2 separate regions of the Homo sapiens genome follow, and region 1 is linked to region 2. A link means that fine-mapping ties the variant in region 2 to the expression of a gene that starts in the linked region. Tissue or cell type: whole blood. Region 2 holds a variant in brackets; the other region holds the start of a gene. All regions are shown on one strand. Distances are between the middles of the regions.

Region 1 (8,103 bases), 25 kb before region 2:
CTGCTACATGATTTTGCTGTGAGAGTGAGTGAAATAATCTACACGAAGCCTATGGCATCTACTTGATGCTTGGTAACTGTGGCTATTCTCCCCTAATCTGGGCCCTTTATGCATCCCCAGCTTCCGGTTCATGAGCTAATTGCTCCCTGGAGAGCAGGGACCTTGTCTCATTCTTTCTAGCTCCCTCGCGGAGCCCTGTTATGGTGACCCACACAAATCATGTGTGCATAAAGCCCATACCAGAGGCAGGCATGAGGCCATGCCTGGGTGTTTCATATTCTCTTGGCTCTAAAGCCCCTTCATTCCATCTTCCTTCTGTTCCAACCCAGGTCAGCCCTACTTCACCCCAGCAGAGCACATGTTTCTTGGGTCCTGAGCTATTTCCAGGGAAGAACAGCTCCTCACAGGCCCAAGTTTACCACATGCCAGAGGAAATCTGATGACCTACAGGTGCCTGTGGAGGTCAGGTGCATTCTTGCTGAAAACAGGAGTCTTGTGACCCAAGAAATGGAAATGGCAGAATTACCAGTAGGGTAGGACATTGCTCTGGACATTTAGCTAGTTACCAGGGAGCAAGATTCCCCACTTGTTTCCCTGCAGTTAACGTCCTTATCTTCAGTGGTCCTACTGGAAGTCCTACCTGATATCTAGCTCCAGGCTTTCATGCTGCACATATCAGATTGGCCACACTGTTTCCCGCATGCCTTGTGGCTTCCATGTGTTATCTCTGCAAGTGTTAAGAGGAAGGGACGTGCTAGGCTCCTGCTGTATGTGTGACAATGGAATATCTGCTCACTGTCTCTGCAGGACACACTTTGGAAGAAGCCTTAGAGATCCTGGCATGGGGAATACCCCATGGGGCAGGCCAGGGGACAGTGCCAGGCCATAAGCCTTTCCCTGTTGGGATAAACAATCTTCTCTCAGGAGAACAGGCAGTCAAACTGTTGGCTGATAAAATAAATGCTTCCGATCTTAATCCCATCCCAGTCTTCACTGTGGCAGCCTGTTGCTGAGTTAAATCATTTCCTCTCCTGCCCTGATGTCTAGAAAATCTCCTCTCTGAGCCTGTTGGCCCTACTTGATTGACATTCATCCGGGTCTTTAGCTTCTTTGATCTCTTCCCCAAATTTGTCCTTCAGTTCTCAGAGTCTCTCTCTTTCTCTCTTTTTGAATATTCGGCTCTATCCTGCCACCACTCCATGTCAGGAGCTGGGCCTGAACAGAAACATCTGAAAGACTGCCTCTTCTCCACGCCCAACACCTGCTATCCCATGGGACGGACTAGACCTTGCCAGAGCCCCTGGTATGGCAAGCATGTTGTTCAGGTCCCTGAGGTGTGTCTGAACAACATGCTTGGAACCTGAAGAACATGCTTGCCATAGCAGAGGCTCATCACATGAAGCATGTGGCCTGTACTTTCTAAACATTCCCTAGTCATATCTGAATTTCTAGACCTTAAATCTTGTTTGAGTTCTCCCTCTCTGCCCTCGAAAATCCAGCTTTAACATAGCTAGCACGTATGCAGTCCTTACTAGATGCTGGACACCTTTCCAGGCATTATCACATTTAATCCTGCCAAACACCCTAAGAAGTTAAGTGCTATGCTCCTTTTACAGATGAGTTAACTCAAGGTTGGAAAGCTTATGGAATTTAACCAAGGTCATAGAGTTTGTGAGTGGCCAAGCCAGGACCTGAACCTAGATTTGAATTATCTGGTTTATGCTTTCAAGTGCCACACATTACAGTGATTCCCTGAAGTTCTGAATTTATCTTCTAGTCCAGGGAACTCCTTTGCCACTTCCTCGCCTCTCTCTTTCTCTTTCCAAGCTAGAAAGGAATCCACAAAACCATGTGGTGCTCATTCCTCTGCACCTGGGGAGGGAAGGGACCTTCGCTATTTTTAAGTTCTTCAGTGATCAGTAAACATGAGTATCCTGTTCATCAGGACAGTTTCTCATTACAAATTCGTAAATTCATACTAATATGATATGTCAGTCTCTTATGAGTTTGTTTCTGATGAGTCAGTTCCCTCGATTCCTGAGGAATCTGAGGACTCATGGCAGCCTAATTGATTCTCCAAGACTTCAAAGCTTCAGTATAAACATGGAACATGGTGACCACACCAAGATCCCACCAGGCCGTGTGGCAGTGGCACCTGGGGAGTGAGCAAGGTGACACATTCAAACAGGAACAAGGAAGAAGCAGGTTTAAAGCCTCTGCTCCACTGTTGCCCTCTCTTTGCATAGGCTCTGGTCTTAACCTCTGCCTGCTTCTACCTTTGTGACCTTCAACAAGTTGCTTATCTTCTCCGAGTATTTCCTCAGCTGTAAAATGGACACAGTGATTCTTGCCCTTCTGACTGTTTACAAGGTCAGAGGCTGAGGATCCTTGTGGTGAGAATCAAGTAAGCAGAAGGACAGAAGGAGTTCTGTAACTCGGAAAATGCAGTATCGATGCTGGTTGTTAAAACCCTCATCATTCCTATCATTTCTGTCCTTGGAGTGCAAGAAACTGCATCCAAGCCCAGGATAAACGCTAAGAGCTGCCAGCATGGAGGGAAGGAAGTGGGGGCCAGGCTGTTCCCCGTGGCATTCCGGGGGCACTTCCCAGTGTCCAGGCCGCACTGCCCAAGACGAATGGAGAAGAGGGACAATGAGAGGCGATCCTCTGCAGGACTATGAGTGGGGTGAAATTCTTCTCCTTTTTGAAACTGCCTTGTTTCAAAATAATAATAATAAATATTAATAATAAAATATTATGATAATATTTTTACAATAATAAGTGAAATGTAGGAAAAAAAACAGTGCACAGGCCTACAGAGGGCTTCCCTTGCCATGCTCTTTTGCTCCAATACTGCATTTCACCAGAGGGTCAACATTCGCACCCCACCACCTGCCATTTGTTTTGCTTTGCAATTGCCCTGGGTCTCTCCATGAGCAGGTCCCATCCCTGGCCATGCAGAATGCCTTCTTACAGAATCCCTGGTAGAGGGCCTTGGGGATTAGACAGTGCAACCCCTCATGCTATGGTTGAGGAAGCTGGGGCCCAGAGAAGAGGGGGATGCCTTGTGCCTTGTCTAGGTCAGTGTGGTGGAAGCACCAGCTTCTTCTGGAAGCCCAGGTGCTGCCTGGGTCTGCCCTTCCCCTCGGCTCCCTTCCAAATCCCAAGCTTCTAGGTCACACGACACTTTCTCTTACTCCCCTGGCTCTTTGAAGGAAATAATGTATACAGTGGGCCATTTCCAGGATGAAGTGCCTGAATTGGCTTAGGTCAGCAAACTACAGAAGAAACAGGATACACTAGGCCCCTGCTTGGATAGCTGATGCCTGCTTCTCGGCCTCCCCCACTTCCCCACCATCCCCCTTCCCCCCACTTCCCCACTCCTTAGTTGCCCTCCCCGAACCAAAGAAGTTTAGTCTAAGATGAAAGTTTACTAGCCTACAAAATAGTTCATTTTGTTTGTTCTTATCAGCCTGCCCAGCTACTTCGGTCATAAATCAAATACTTTATGAGCCCCTGAGCTAGCTAGGATTGCAATGCATTGTGGGCTGCAACAAAATGGAGCAAAACAACCCTAAAAAACCACCTACAGCCCCTGCCCAGCAATGAACAGGCATCATCCGGGAAGATTGTAACCCATAATACTCAGCCTATGAGGAACCAGGGGAGAGACCTGTGCACTAGGGGATAAACTGCTTGTTGAAACTGTGCTGGGTGTGCCTGCTCAAGAGACACCCGATTTTGCAAGACCGTCATCACAAGTCTCACTTTCGCTGTTCTCTGGGTCTCTGAGTCCATTCTTTGGGTTTGGACGGGTGAGTCTGTTTCTCACAACCTGGTGGCCCATATGGGGATTTCCATGCCTGCATGGAGTGAGACTCCAGCTGACAGGGGAGATGTGTCCCACTCGATTTGTGTGGCCCACTCTGTCCAGGTGTCTCAGCTCCCCGAAGAAGCCATAGACAAACCTGAAACTGTTATTCAGGAGACAACTAAAGTGACACAGGGAGAAAAGCAGGCAACCAGGCAACCTCACGCATGAGCCAAGGTAGGAAAATTGATCTGTAAGTACTGCTTGGTAGTTGTGCATTTTCGGAGGTCTTGGGGTGTGTAAGAAACCTCCAGTAAGGGAGGCTGAGTACACAGGGAAAAGCTCAGACACAGAGACTAACCAAAAATGGGAAACAAGAATTCTAGGCCTAGAGAACAGAGGAAAGAGGGAACTAAAGAGAACCCTTCTGACATTCCCCCAAATAGTCCGCTGGGGAGAATGCTGCAGGTTTGAAGGGATAGTCCTCAAACCAGGGACAAGGAAAAGCAAAAGATGATAAAGTTTGTTGTTTTATCTGGCCCAAAAAGCCCATTCGTCAACCTTTGGTCTTTTGGCCTGAGTTTGGCTCAGATGAGGATTGGGTGTGCCAAGCTTTAATTTTCTGTGAATAATAAAACTCCATCCTCACGAGAGGAGACAGGTTATGCTCTTTGTTGGATTAGTGAATTAACCCCCATGTTCCCCTTTAAAAAGAAGAAAAAGAGCATAGTAAAAAGCCCTCACCCAATGAAAAGCCCTGGGATCCCCTAACACGCTTGCCCCCCCATACATCTCAGGAAGAACAGAACAGGGCGATCGGGGGGCAGCAAGAAGGTCGGAGGAAGAGGAATCGGGGGGTCACGAAGAAGCTAAACCCAATGCTTCCTTAAATCCTTATCCAAACTAGAGGAAAGAATTAGAACAATGTAAGAAGGACATTGAGAATTTCCCCGTTCCTTCTAAACAGCAGATGTCTAACAGGTACCCTCTTAGAGAAGTCTCTACGGGACAGAGAGGAGTTGGGTTTGTTGGGTTTGTGAGTGTGCCTCTAGCAAGTACTGAGGTTCAGAATTCTAAAAAGAAAATGAGGCCACTCTGGGAAGACCCCCTCGGTTTAGCAGAGCAGCTAGATCAATTTTTATGACCCCATTTTTATACTTGGGCTAAGATAATGTCAATCATAAATATTCTGTTTCCTGGGGAAGAGAGGGGAATGATTATAAGGGCAGCCATGACCATTTGGGAGAGACCCCATTCTCCCGGGTAAGGAGTCCTGCCAGCTGAGCAGAAATTCCCAAATGCAAATCCCAGAGGGGATAACAATAACCTCAGAGATCAGGCCCCAGTGCAGGACCCAAGGGAACTAATAATTAAAGGGATTAAAAAGTCCACTCTTAGAACACAAAATGTCTTGAAAGCATTCGAGATCCAACAATAAAAAGAGAAGACTCCCTCCGCATTTCTGCAGAGGCTCAGGGATCAAATAAGAAAATATTCAGGATTAGGTCCAGAGCACCCAGTAGGGCAAGGCCTTTTAGGACTTAGTTCTGTGACAAAAGCTGGCCTGATATTACTAAGAAACTGCAAAAGATTGATAGGTGGAATGAAAAACCGATTAAGGAATTACTGAGGGAAGCTCAGAAGGTTTTTGTAAGAAGAAAGAAAAGAGAAACTGGAAAAGGGAGAAAGAGAAAAAGTAAAAAAGAAAATTGGAAAGACAAAGGGGAGGAAATGGCAAACATAGAGGGCCAGAGAGAGAAAGAGTTAAGCTGCTGACCCTGAAGGCAAGGGAGAGGCGGCCACACAACTGTGTGTGGAAGCTGGCTGCTGAAAGCTGTTGATAAAAGTTGTTGCTGAATCTTTGTTGTTTCGACAGAGCTGTCCATCTTTGCAGATTGTCAGGGGCCAGGGCCCAGCACAGTTTAGCTTGTGCCCAGAGAGAGAAAGAGAAAGAAACTAAGTGTGAGGGAAAAAGGAAACAGGATGATAGAGATAGATAGAAAAAGAAAACGAGCGAGAGCAAGAGACTGGAAAAGACAGATCAAAGAGAGACACCAAAGTTAAGACTGGGGAGAAAAATAATGCAAAAGGAAGAAAGAGTACAAGAGGAAGTGAGAGGATGTGGAGAGGTTGGCAGGGCTGGGGGAAGGTTCTAGAGGCTCAAGCAACAAGGAGGTGCTGGGAAAGGGTGCAGTGCGGCCACTGAGGAGGGACAGGGTCCGGGAACTGGGGGATGCAAGTGAGAAGGGGATGTGGAGGAGAGTTTAGGATCAGGCTGCCTGAGGAATAGTGGGTTGCGTACGGCAAAGACTAGATGGCTGTTTGTCAGGAGGGTGTAGAAAGGGTTCAGGATGTGGAAGGGTGAGTGGATGAGATGAGCATTAAGGTTTGCTGCTGTTTCACTGAGAGGCTGTGAGTCCACCAGGGGCAGCCGTCAGTAAGGCTGCAGAGAGGCCGGGGGGCTACATAAGGAAGATCCGAACTAGGGTTATAAACTCAAAGGACAACACGGCCAGCAAATGGTGAGAAGGAGGGCTGCAGGGCTGGATGGGGACTGTGGCTAACTGAAGAGGGCACACCTCTGCAGCTGCTCGACTGTTCTCACAGTGCCAGCCCTGTGTTGCCAGACTGTCTGCTTTGTCAGAGGCCAGAATTCTGACTTTTTATGTGAAACAGGATTTTTAAATGCTGGTGATCAGTTAAAAAAACTTAATAACCCAATACAGGTGATAGAAAATGCCAGTTTGCAATCCCTGAAGTAGAGAGAGCGCGTGCTGGGGAGAAGTCCGCCAGGATGCTTTGAGGTGGGGTGTATAAAAGTTCTGTTTCCCAGAGCTGGGCTGGGCCAAGGGGCGACCCTTGCAGCTGACGAAAAGCCACCAAGTCCCCTCCCAGAGCGGGACAAACCTGGGACCCTTTGCAGTTGCTGGGTCACCAGCAGGGGTGGCGTGGAATACAAACAGTGCAGCTCTCGGCCTGCCAGGGAGACGGATGGTGCCTTCAAAGCAAAGAAGGAGCCAGGGATGCCTTTGCTGATGAGAGTGCCCATCAGGGAAGGCACCACAGGCTGGCAGCTCTTCAAACCAGCAGCTGTTGGCCCAGAGCCAGACCCGGCAGAGCCCGGCTAAAGACACCCTGAAAGGCCAGCTGGTCAGCCCCTTGCCTCCTCAAGTTCCTCCTGGGGTCAGTGGGCCCTGGAAAGGCGCCTAAATGAACTCCAGTCAGTTTCTTACGGAAATGAGAGGAGAATAAGCAGGTATCAGACCATAACTGTTTACATATGATAGAATATCAAACCAAAGTTAGACCAGACCTTAAAGAAATTCCACTACTCGATGGAATGAGGCTGTTTGTGAATAGGCCATCCTGAGTGATAGATGGTAAAAGACACAATGTCCAGGCTGTCATTGATGGAAACAAACAAACCTTATGAGAAAAAGGTAGATTACCCAATAACTGCTCAGCCCAAACCTGTGAATTACATGCTCTTAACCAAGCCCTGAAGCTCATATAAGGCCAAGAAGGCACTGTATATGCTATTTCCAGATATGCCTATGGAGTAGTACACACCTTTGGAAAGATCTGGACAAAGTGGAGCCTAATAAATAGCAGGTAGAAAGAATTGGTATATGGGAAACTGGTCAAACAAGTTTTAAAAAGCCTCCTGCTTCCAGCAGAGGTAGCCATAGTTCATGTAAACGGCCATCAGAAAGGAAACTCTATAGAAGCTAGGGTTAGGGTTAGGGTTAGGGTTAGGGTTAGGGAACAGGCTTGTGGATAAAGCTGCTAAGCAGCCTCCCTGGAGGTAGAAGTTAAACTATTTGGCCTAATCCCAGATATCCCTAAGGTGGTATTAAAACCCCAACTTTCTGAAGAGGAGGAGGAAGAGCTGGGCAAGATAGGGCCACTCAAACTGAGGATGGGAGGTGGGTGCTCCCTGATGGGACCGAAATGATAAGCAAACTCACAAGGAGAGAACTGATATCCATACTCTGTAAGGGAGGTCACTGGGGTCCCCAGGCCATGTGTGATGCAATACTCAAGAATTACGGGTGTATAGGGATCTACACCCTTGTTAAACAAGTGTGTGGGTGTTATGTGACCTGCCAGAGAATAAACAAAAAGGTAGTTAGAAAACAGACTACCGGCCGGGCGCGGTGGCTCACGCCTGTAATCCCAGCACTTTGGGAGGCCGAGGTGGGCGGATCACGAGGTCAGGAGATCGAGACCATCCTGGCTAACACAGTGAAACCCCGTCTCTACTAAAAATACAAAAAAATTAGCCGGGCACG
Region 2 (8,103 bases):
CCTCCCTTCACCAAGCTGAGGATAGCAGACTGAATCCCCAGCCTTCAGAAGGAAACAGCCAGGGAACCTCTCTAAAGGAGCTGCCTTGAGCTCCAGGAGAAGGGAGAAATCATAAAATTGCTTCTGGTCACCTGCCCCATCCCCACCCATCTTGGTACCACCATCACTACTGCTGGTGGAGCCTGCAGACTGGATTTTTTTCCACTTTCTCTTAATTTTCTCACCTCCTCCAAAGAGCCTTTTCTATTTAAACTTAATAAATAGGAAGAAAAGAAACCCTTATTTTTTCAGAAACCTCTGATTCCTGGGGTGAGGAGGAGGAGGGGATAGCCAAAACAACTTTGAAAAACAAGAACAAGTTGTAGGACTTCACTGGATGGTTTCAAGACTGAAAATGAAGCTACCATAATTAAGATGGTGCAGTGGTGGCATAAGAATAGACACACAGATTGAACAAAAAGAGAAGCCAGAAATAGATCCATACATATATCATAAATTGACCCTTGGTAAAAGTACCAAGGCATTCAAAAAGGAATGATAAACTTTTTAACAGATAGTGCTGAAACAACTGGATATCCAGATGCAAAAAAATAGACTTCAATCCATGCCTTATGCCATACATAAAAATTTAAAAAATAGATCATAGACTTAAAATAACAGATAAAACCATAACACATCTCAAAGAAAATATAGAAGATAATATGTGGCTTTAGGATATGCAAAGATTTCATAGATAGGACCAGAAAGCACAAGCCACGAAACAAAAAAATTGCTAAGTTAGCCTTCATTGAAATGAAAAAGGTACATCAATTTTTCTCTTTGAAGAACTGCTACAACTCAATAATAAAAAGACAAACAACCTGATAGGAAAATGTACAAGAGATTTGAACAGACACTTCTCCAAAGGAAATATACTAAGGACAAACAAGCACACGACAAGATCTTCAACATCACTAGTCATTAGGGAATTGCCAATTAAAACCACAAGCAGATACTATTACACACCCACTAGAATGAATAAAATCTGTGTCTGACAAAACCGAGTGTTGACAAGGGTGCGGAGCACCTGGAACTCTCATACACCTCTGAAAGGAATGCAAAATAGTGCCACACTTTGGAAAACAGTCTTGCAGTTTCTTCTAAAGTTAAACATACATTTATCATATACCCTTCCAATTGCATTCCTAGGTATTTACCCAAGATAAACAAAAAGTTATACTGATACGAAACTATTCATGTATGTAAAAAACCACCCAGAAACAATGTAAATGTCCACTAACTGGCAAATGGATAAATTGTGGTATGTCCATTCAATGTAATACTATTCAGCAATAAAAAGGAACATGCTTACTGATACATCAGCCAACATGGATGAATTTCATAAACGTTGTATTAAATAAAGGAAGGTGTCCACAAAAGACTCCATATTGTATGATTCCACTTATATAATATTCTAGAAAAGACACAACTATATTGACAGAGGTAAGTTTCAGCAATGCAGGAAGGAAGGGATGAACTGTAAGAGGGAACAAAGGGTCACTTGGCTGATGAAAATGTTTGTATCTTGACTGAGATAGTTGTTACACAAGTGTAATGTTTCAAAACTCATCAAGTTATACATGTAAAACGGCTGAATTTTATTGTATCTAATTTTAGCTTAATCCAACTGATTTTTAAAAAGAAAAAAGACCAAAATCTTTTCCTCTTCCTTCTCATTTCTTGCTATTTTATCAAGAGGCTTTAGAATAATTTCCTTTCTAATTTCCCTCCACCCATTGCCCCCAGATCACCTAATGATTAACCCCCTTCCAAGCAGTAGAAAAAGACATTATATTTTTCTTTCCTTTCAACTGCTAGATTGTATTTTCAGAGACTAGATGGTTCATCACTGAGCCAAAGGAGTCCAGGGGGCCAGAAACTGGGACAATGAGAAAATTGGGGGTGGGGATGGCTGAATGGGGGAAATTTGGGGCCTGGGCCTAAGGACTGAGAGTCCCTAGAAGGTTTGATAGAAACAGCTCTGGGCTGGAGATGCAGACCCAGCCCCTACTCTATGCTCACCTTTGGGAGGGTCAGGTCATGGTAAACAAGGCTCCTACACCTGCCTTATTTATTTTACTGAACTGTGGGGGATTCATATTCAAGCAAGACTTGAATATGAAACTACCTTGAGAGAAACATAATAAACCCTGCACAAATGCAAAACCTTATAATGAATATTACTGATATTATTAGTCTCTGCTACTGAGAAACTCAGCAACCACAATTCTCTTTCAAACAGAGCCCTACCAGGATGCCATCTTGACTTCCTTCTTTCTGGTCCCTATTTTCTTCTGCAGGCCTGGGGGCTGTGGAGGGAGAGGTAGATTTCCTTTGCTCACTGGTGCAATCTACCACTGTACAGTCTTCCACAGAGAGCTTTGGGAAGATCTTAATAAGGCAAGCAGTTACAGCTGTTCCAGAAGCCGGGGCAAAAGGCTGTAGAAAACATTGGCCTGTTGGTATCCAGACCCAGGTTGGCCAACCAGGTTCAGTGTTCTGCCCCAAGCCTGCCAGAGGATGGAATCTCCACAGGGACCCCCTGCTCTCCAGGACTTGCTTCTCTTTGATTCTCTGCTCACTTTTCTTTGGGGGAGCTTTGACGTTCTTCTAGTCCATGCCTCTGCCATCAAGGAAAAGAAGGATAACAGAGTCCTAGGAAAACAGTGACCTGCCCCTTTATTATTCAGTGAGGTTTTTCCTAAAAACACACTGTACGTTTTTCAGATGTTCATAAAAGAGTATGAGTTTGGTCTTGCAGTAACTCAGTGTTTTTTCTGTTGTACTCCGAAGAGGCCCAGTGCCCCACCAGCTGCTGCAGGGACCTTATTAAGGTTAAGAGGAGAATGGAGAAGGCAGAGCACAGAACCTTCCATTCAACTAATGAAGCTCTGATTTGGTTAGTTTTATGTCTTAGGAATATCTGTTAGGTTTAATTTTGAAAAAAATAAGTTTCCTTTTTTAAGAAACAGCTGAGAAAACATGCTTCTAACCCGAAGCCCTCCTGCTGCTTCGGGAAGCCAGCTCTGCCGTGTCCAGTCATGCTGGCCTTAGAGAGGTGCTGCGTGCCCCTCCCTGCAAGGGCCCGCCATAGTCCTCCTTTCGGTGAAGCCTGCGGGAATCCTTCCTGAGGAATCCTACCTAACCGCACGTATACAACAGAACTTTTTTAAAGGACTGTATAAGGATGAAATGAGTTAAAACACTTTGAAAGCCCTTACAACAGAACACGGCTAATACATGGTAGCTGTTATGAATGTGTCCTACTTCTGATACCTTTGATCTCAAGGAAGAGCTGTTTGCCTTCCCTCCAAGCCCTATCGCTCTTTACCCCCTTTCCTCC[C/T]CCACTGGTCTTCAGTGTCATTATTTTCATAGGCCCTTTTTCTTCAGCATATAAACATGCTCAAATCTCTCATCCTAAAACCATGATTATTCCCTACAACTCTGCTCCCCTGGTTACAACTCTTTCCTTCTGCAGTCAGTCTTCCAAAAAGAGTTGTCTGCTTGTGTGAGCTTCCTTTCACCTTGATCTCTTGCCAACTTGCTGTCATCTGGGTTCTTCCCCCAGAGGCCTAGCAGAATTTAATCTAGGGAGGTCCCTAGTGATCTCTTAGTTGCCAAATCTAAGAACTTCTCAGCGTCTGACTTCACTTTTCTGTAGCATACGTTGGCCCAAATCTCCCTATTTGAAACACTCCCCTCCCATGACTTTCAGAGAAGTGTTCTGCCCTGGTTTTCCTAGTACTTTTTTTGCATGGTGATGAGAGGAAATCAGCCTTCATGCTGGGAGGAAGCCCAAATGACTCCATGGAGAGGCGTGCATGGAAAGGAACAAACAGCCATCCCCAGCTTGACAGCCGCTTGATGACCATCCTGATAATGAACCTCCATCCTCCAAGCCCCTCTAGCAGATATGATGCAGAACAGAAAAAAGCTGTCCCCAATAAGCTCTGCCAAAACTACAGATTTCTGAGCAAAACAGAGATCTGTTTTGTTATTTTGAGTTTTGAGGTAGCTCTCACAGCATGTTGTTGGTTATTTGCCTCTGGTCCTAGGAGTGCACCTGCATATAGCTGAGAGGGAGCCACAGAACACTTTGGGGAAGGAATTTCATGGAGGCCCTTTCTAGAACCACAGGAGAGAGCACAATTTCACGGAGAGCTGTAGGCCTTCCCAGATCTAAGGATCTGGGAAGACCTGCATAGCATCCTTGCCCTTCCAAAAGATGGGTGTGGAATCACAGGCAGATTATCTGATCTTCTTCAGCCTCGGTCTCCTGAACTGTAAAAGGGAGGTCATACAAGAAATGACCTCATCAGGTTGTTGTGAAGGTCAAACAAGATACCTGTGTTGTGCTTAGTACAATACCTAGCACAGAGCAGGCACACACACACAAAAATGCTTGTACTAGGCCGTGCGCTGATATGGGGTAGGCAGGAGCTGTCTGGAGTTCAAAGTCCGTCTTTGCTATTTTCCTGTTAATATCTTTGCCTGACTGAGCCTCAGTTTCCTTACTCATAAAATAGGATATGGACAGCATCTATCTCGAAGGCTTATTGTGATGAGCAAATGAGCTAACAGATCTAAAATGCTTAGATCTGAGCCTGGTCCAATGAGTAAGCCCTCACTGTCCCAGACCCGATTACCGCACACTCCAAAGCCTCACAGTATTATGGGGACAGCAAAGCCTGTACCCATACCACCATGTTACAATTAGGAAATAGGCTAAAGGTGATGGCCATCTCAGCCAGTGATCCCAGGCTTCTCAGAAATCTAGACATCCAGAATCTGCCCAGCCTTCAGAGTCCAGTGCCAAAGACATTCCTCCCACAAAGCCTTCCCTTGTTTGTTTTGTGCTCACCCCCAACCCTGCTGGCCTCTGCCCCACCTAGGCCGGAAGCGCCCACCTCTGAACTCCTTCAGCAGCTTCCCTGAGACATTAGTGGAATGCAACATCTATTTTTTCCACTCTGTATCACTGATGTTTATATACATGTCATATCTCCCTATACTAGAATGAGTTTTCCAGAGCCATGCCTGTGACCAATTCATCTCTACATCCAGTACAGAACATAGCCTGGCACATGGCTTAGAGCAGAAATGGTTTGTTGACTGAATGTGTGAATAAATCCCGATTCCTAAGGGTGCTGGAGAGAAATGGGGGATTAAGTGTGCACATATATGAAACATGCACATGCCTGGAAACAAAGGCACAACACATGCTAGAGACACAGACCTACTCATCAGTATCAACACACGCTCAAGGCAGTACAACATCTCTATAACTAATCCTCATTTTACAGATGAGGAGGCTCAGAGAGTCTAAGATATTTGCTCAGTATCACAGCCTTGGCATCTACCTGGCAGTCTTGGGGGAGCTTAACTCAGAACAGGAAACCCAGGCTGTAACTTGAGCATGCCAGGAGGCCCTAGCTTCCTTTTCGGCCATGCTCACCCCGCCACTCAGCCCAGCCCCAGAACAGTGAGAGCTTGCTGTCAGTCCTCGAGCTCCATGCCACTGTCTCTCTTCCTGCCCAGCAGGGTGGCACTGTCAGAAATGCCAGAGCCATTTAGTTGCCCAGCTTGAGGCCTAGTTCTTTGAACTCCAGCAGACTTTGCAGGGAGCCAAGAGGGCTCCCAGTGCCAGGCGTGGCAGCACAGCATGAATTGCAGAGCTGGGCCCGTGGCTGCATCCTGCCAGCTTCCCTCACAAGAGATCTCTGTATTACCTGGCAGATGGGTGCCTGGCAGCTAGGCAAAGCCAGCTTGAAAGGACGGATCAAAGCCATTGGGCCTCTGCCAGGCTCTGAGGCTGCTCCTCACCAAGTCCTGCCTCACAGCGCCAGGGCAGCATGCCTCCACAGCGTTCCTAACCCACCTTTCGTCAGCTGTGGGCACGCAGTGTTTCTCCAGGAATGGCGAAGGCAAGTCCTGACCAATAGCAACACTGCATTTATGCATGTTTCTGATTTAAAAAACCTTTCTGAACATCCTAAGAGTAATCCCATGGAAAAATATGATACTAATGATAATTAATGTCATTATTATTATTAATGCCATTTGAGGCTAACGGAGGTTTGACGACCTCCCGAGGACCCACAGCTCTGACTTTTTTTGCTGCACGCTGCTTCTGGCATCCATTCTCACTGTACCCCCTGACCCCAGGCATCTGCAGAGGAGGTGGCCTCTGGGCTGTGAGTGGAAGAGCCTTGATCTTGCCCTTCATAGCACAGTCAGACTCTTGAAGTTTGACAGAAACATCAAAACCTACCCAGCCAATCCCCAATTCCAGAGCTTCAACTGACCTTCTAGCATAGACTGCTCAGGTACCTCAATCACATGCCCACAAAAACAGCTGTTTGCTTCTGGTGAATCTGCTAAACCCAAAGGCTCAACATACTCATACACACCTGCCTGGGTGCACAAAGATGTGTACACACAAACATACACCCGTACCTCTTGGTGGACACACATATACATGCAGGCTTCCCTTCATGCACTCATTCAGAGCTCTTACAACAATGCACATAGGTCCTAAACGCCCCAAACCTATGCACACACCATCCTGCACATGTGTGCACACTCCTGGATTTGTAAATGCATACATACACACATACATATTCTCACATACAACCCTGCCCGTGCACACATGTGCAGGCATACACGCACACATGCAGAGCTGAGAACAAGGATGTTTTGTCCACTATGTGAACCCTCCTGACCATATGGGCCACGCAGGGATGTGATGTCCCATGGGGACCTGTAAACCATTCATCTTGTGGCTGCATGTGGGTGGTACTCTGCCAGTCATCAAGCCCAGTCCTGCCAGGCTGGGCACTGAGATGAGTGGGCCACGGGCCAAATTCAGAGCTGCAGCAACGTGAACAACTGTCATATGGGCACGATGCCACCAGCCTTTCTGTTCCTGAACAATGGTCTCTGTCCCAGATTAGGCTTTGCCTGGGGGAAGCACTTCCCACACCACAGGGGACTCCTCTTACAGTGAGGACAGCTATGCCAGGGTGTAAGAGGCTCACACACGAATCCTGAAGATGTCACTTTAGCTGTGTGACCCTGGGTGGATCACCTTAACCTCTTTGAGCCTCAGTTTGCCTCTGTGAAGTAGGGACTGTAATATCTTCCCGTCAGTACCATGTGGATAAATGAGATAACAAATGCACAGCAATGTCGAGCACACAGCAGAAATCAAGTAAGTGGAGGTTGAAAGGAAGGTTGGATAAATGAGTGGACACCAAACAAGGGTGCACGGCGCTCCGGGGCTCCCTGCTGAACTGCTCTCCCTTCTCTGCCTTTGAACCCCTAAGCTCTGTTTTCTAGTGTGGATCACATCATTCCACTTCTCAACCCACCTCCTCCCCCGCCCGCCTTCCCATCAACCTCTCTCCCCACAAACTCCCTCAGAAGGCCCACTGTGATGCCATCTCCTCTCCCTGTCTCTTTCCTCCCTCTCTTGCTCCCCTCTGGCCCCCCTTCCCTTCTTCTGTTCTTTGAACACATGCCTTTCCTTCAGCCCCAGGGCCTTTACACGGAACGCTTTCCCCTGAGGTCTTCACGTGCTCTGTTTTATTTCATCTCTCTGCTCAGATGCCACCCCCTAAGTGAGGACTTCTCTTCAGAGCTATCCTCCCCCTAGCCACCCCCGTACTTTTCTTCTAGTCCTTGGGAATTTCTGTTATACGTGTGTGAATTTTCTTGTTAAATATCTGCCTTCTCCTCTGGAATGGGAGCTCCATGACGGCAGGGGCTTTGTTCGACTTGTTCACCGCGAATCCCTGTGCCCCTGACATGCCGTAGGTGCTCAACAAATACTTGTGAAATGAATGTATACATATGATTCTGGCCCTTGAGGAACCTAAACAGAATTTCCCATCCCTAAATGACAATGCCACGCTCAGCTGCCCTCCTCTCCTTTCTCCTGTACAGCCCAGCTCATCACATTTTAATTTTTTCCCTAGCCTCAGCCAGCCTAATTACCCACAGCACCGGTGTGAACCCTGGTGTATGCGACGATAAGTGAGTGTGCCCAGGCTGATATATCCTGAT

The links. PIP is the estimated chance that this variant, and not a neighbour inherited with it, causes the effect.
Region 1: IQSEC3-AS2 starts here. The variant in region 2 is fine-mapped to the expression of IQSEC3-AS2 in whole blood (INTERVAL, PIP above 0.99).

Annotation. Positions count from the first base shown.
Region 1 is chr12:107,564-115,666 of GRCh38, reverse strand. IQSEC3-AS2 (IQSEC3 antisense RNA 2) reads left to right here and starts at 3,906. Exons shown (of 2, transcript NR_184284.1): 1 at 3,906-4,048. All of the region lies in intron 2 of IQSEC3 (IQ motif and Sec7 domain ArfGEF 3), which reads right to left.
Region 2 is chr12:83,019-91,121 of GRCh38, reverse strand. All of the region lies in intron 1 of IQSEC3 (IQ motif and Sec7 domain ArfGEF 3), which reads right to left. Among named protein-coding and RNA genes, the nearest start is that of IQSEC3, 20 kb to the right of the region's middle. The variant C/T (reference allele first, on the strand shown) is at 3,383.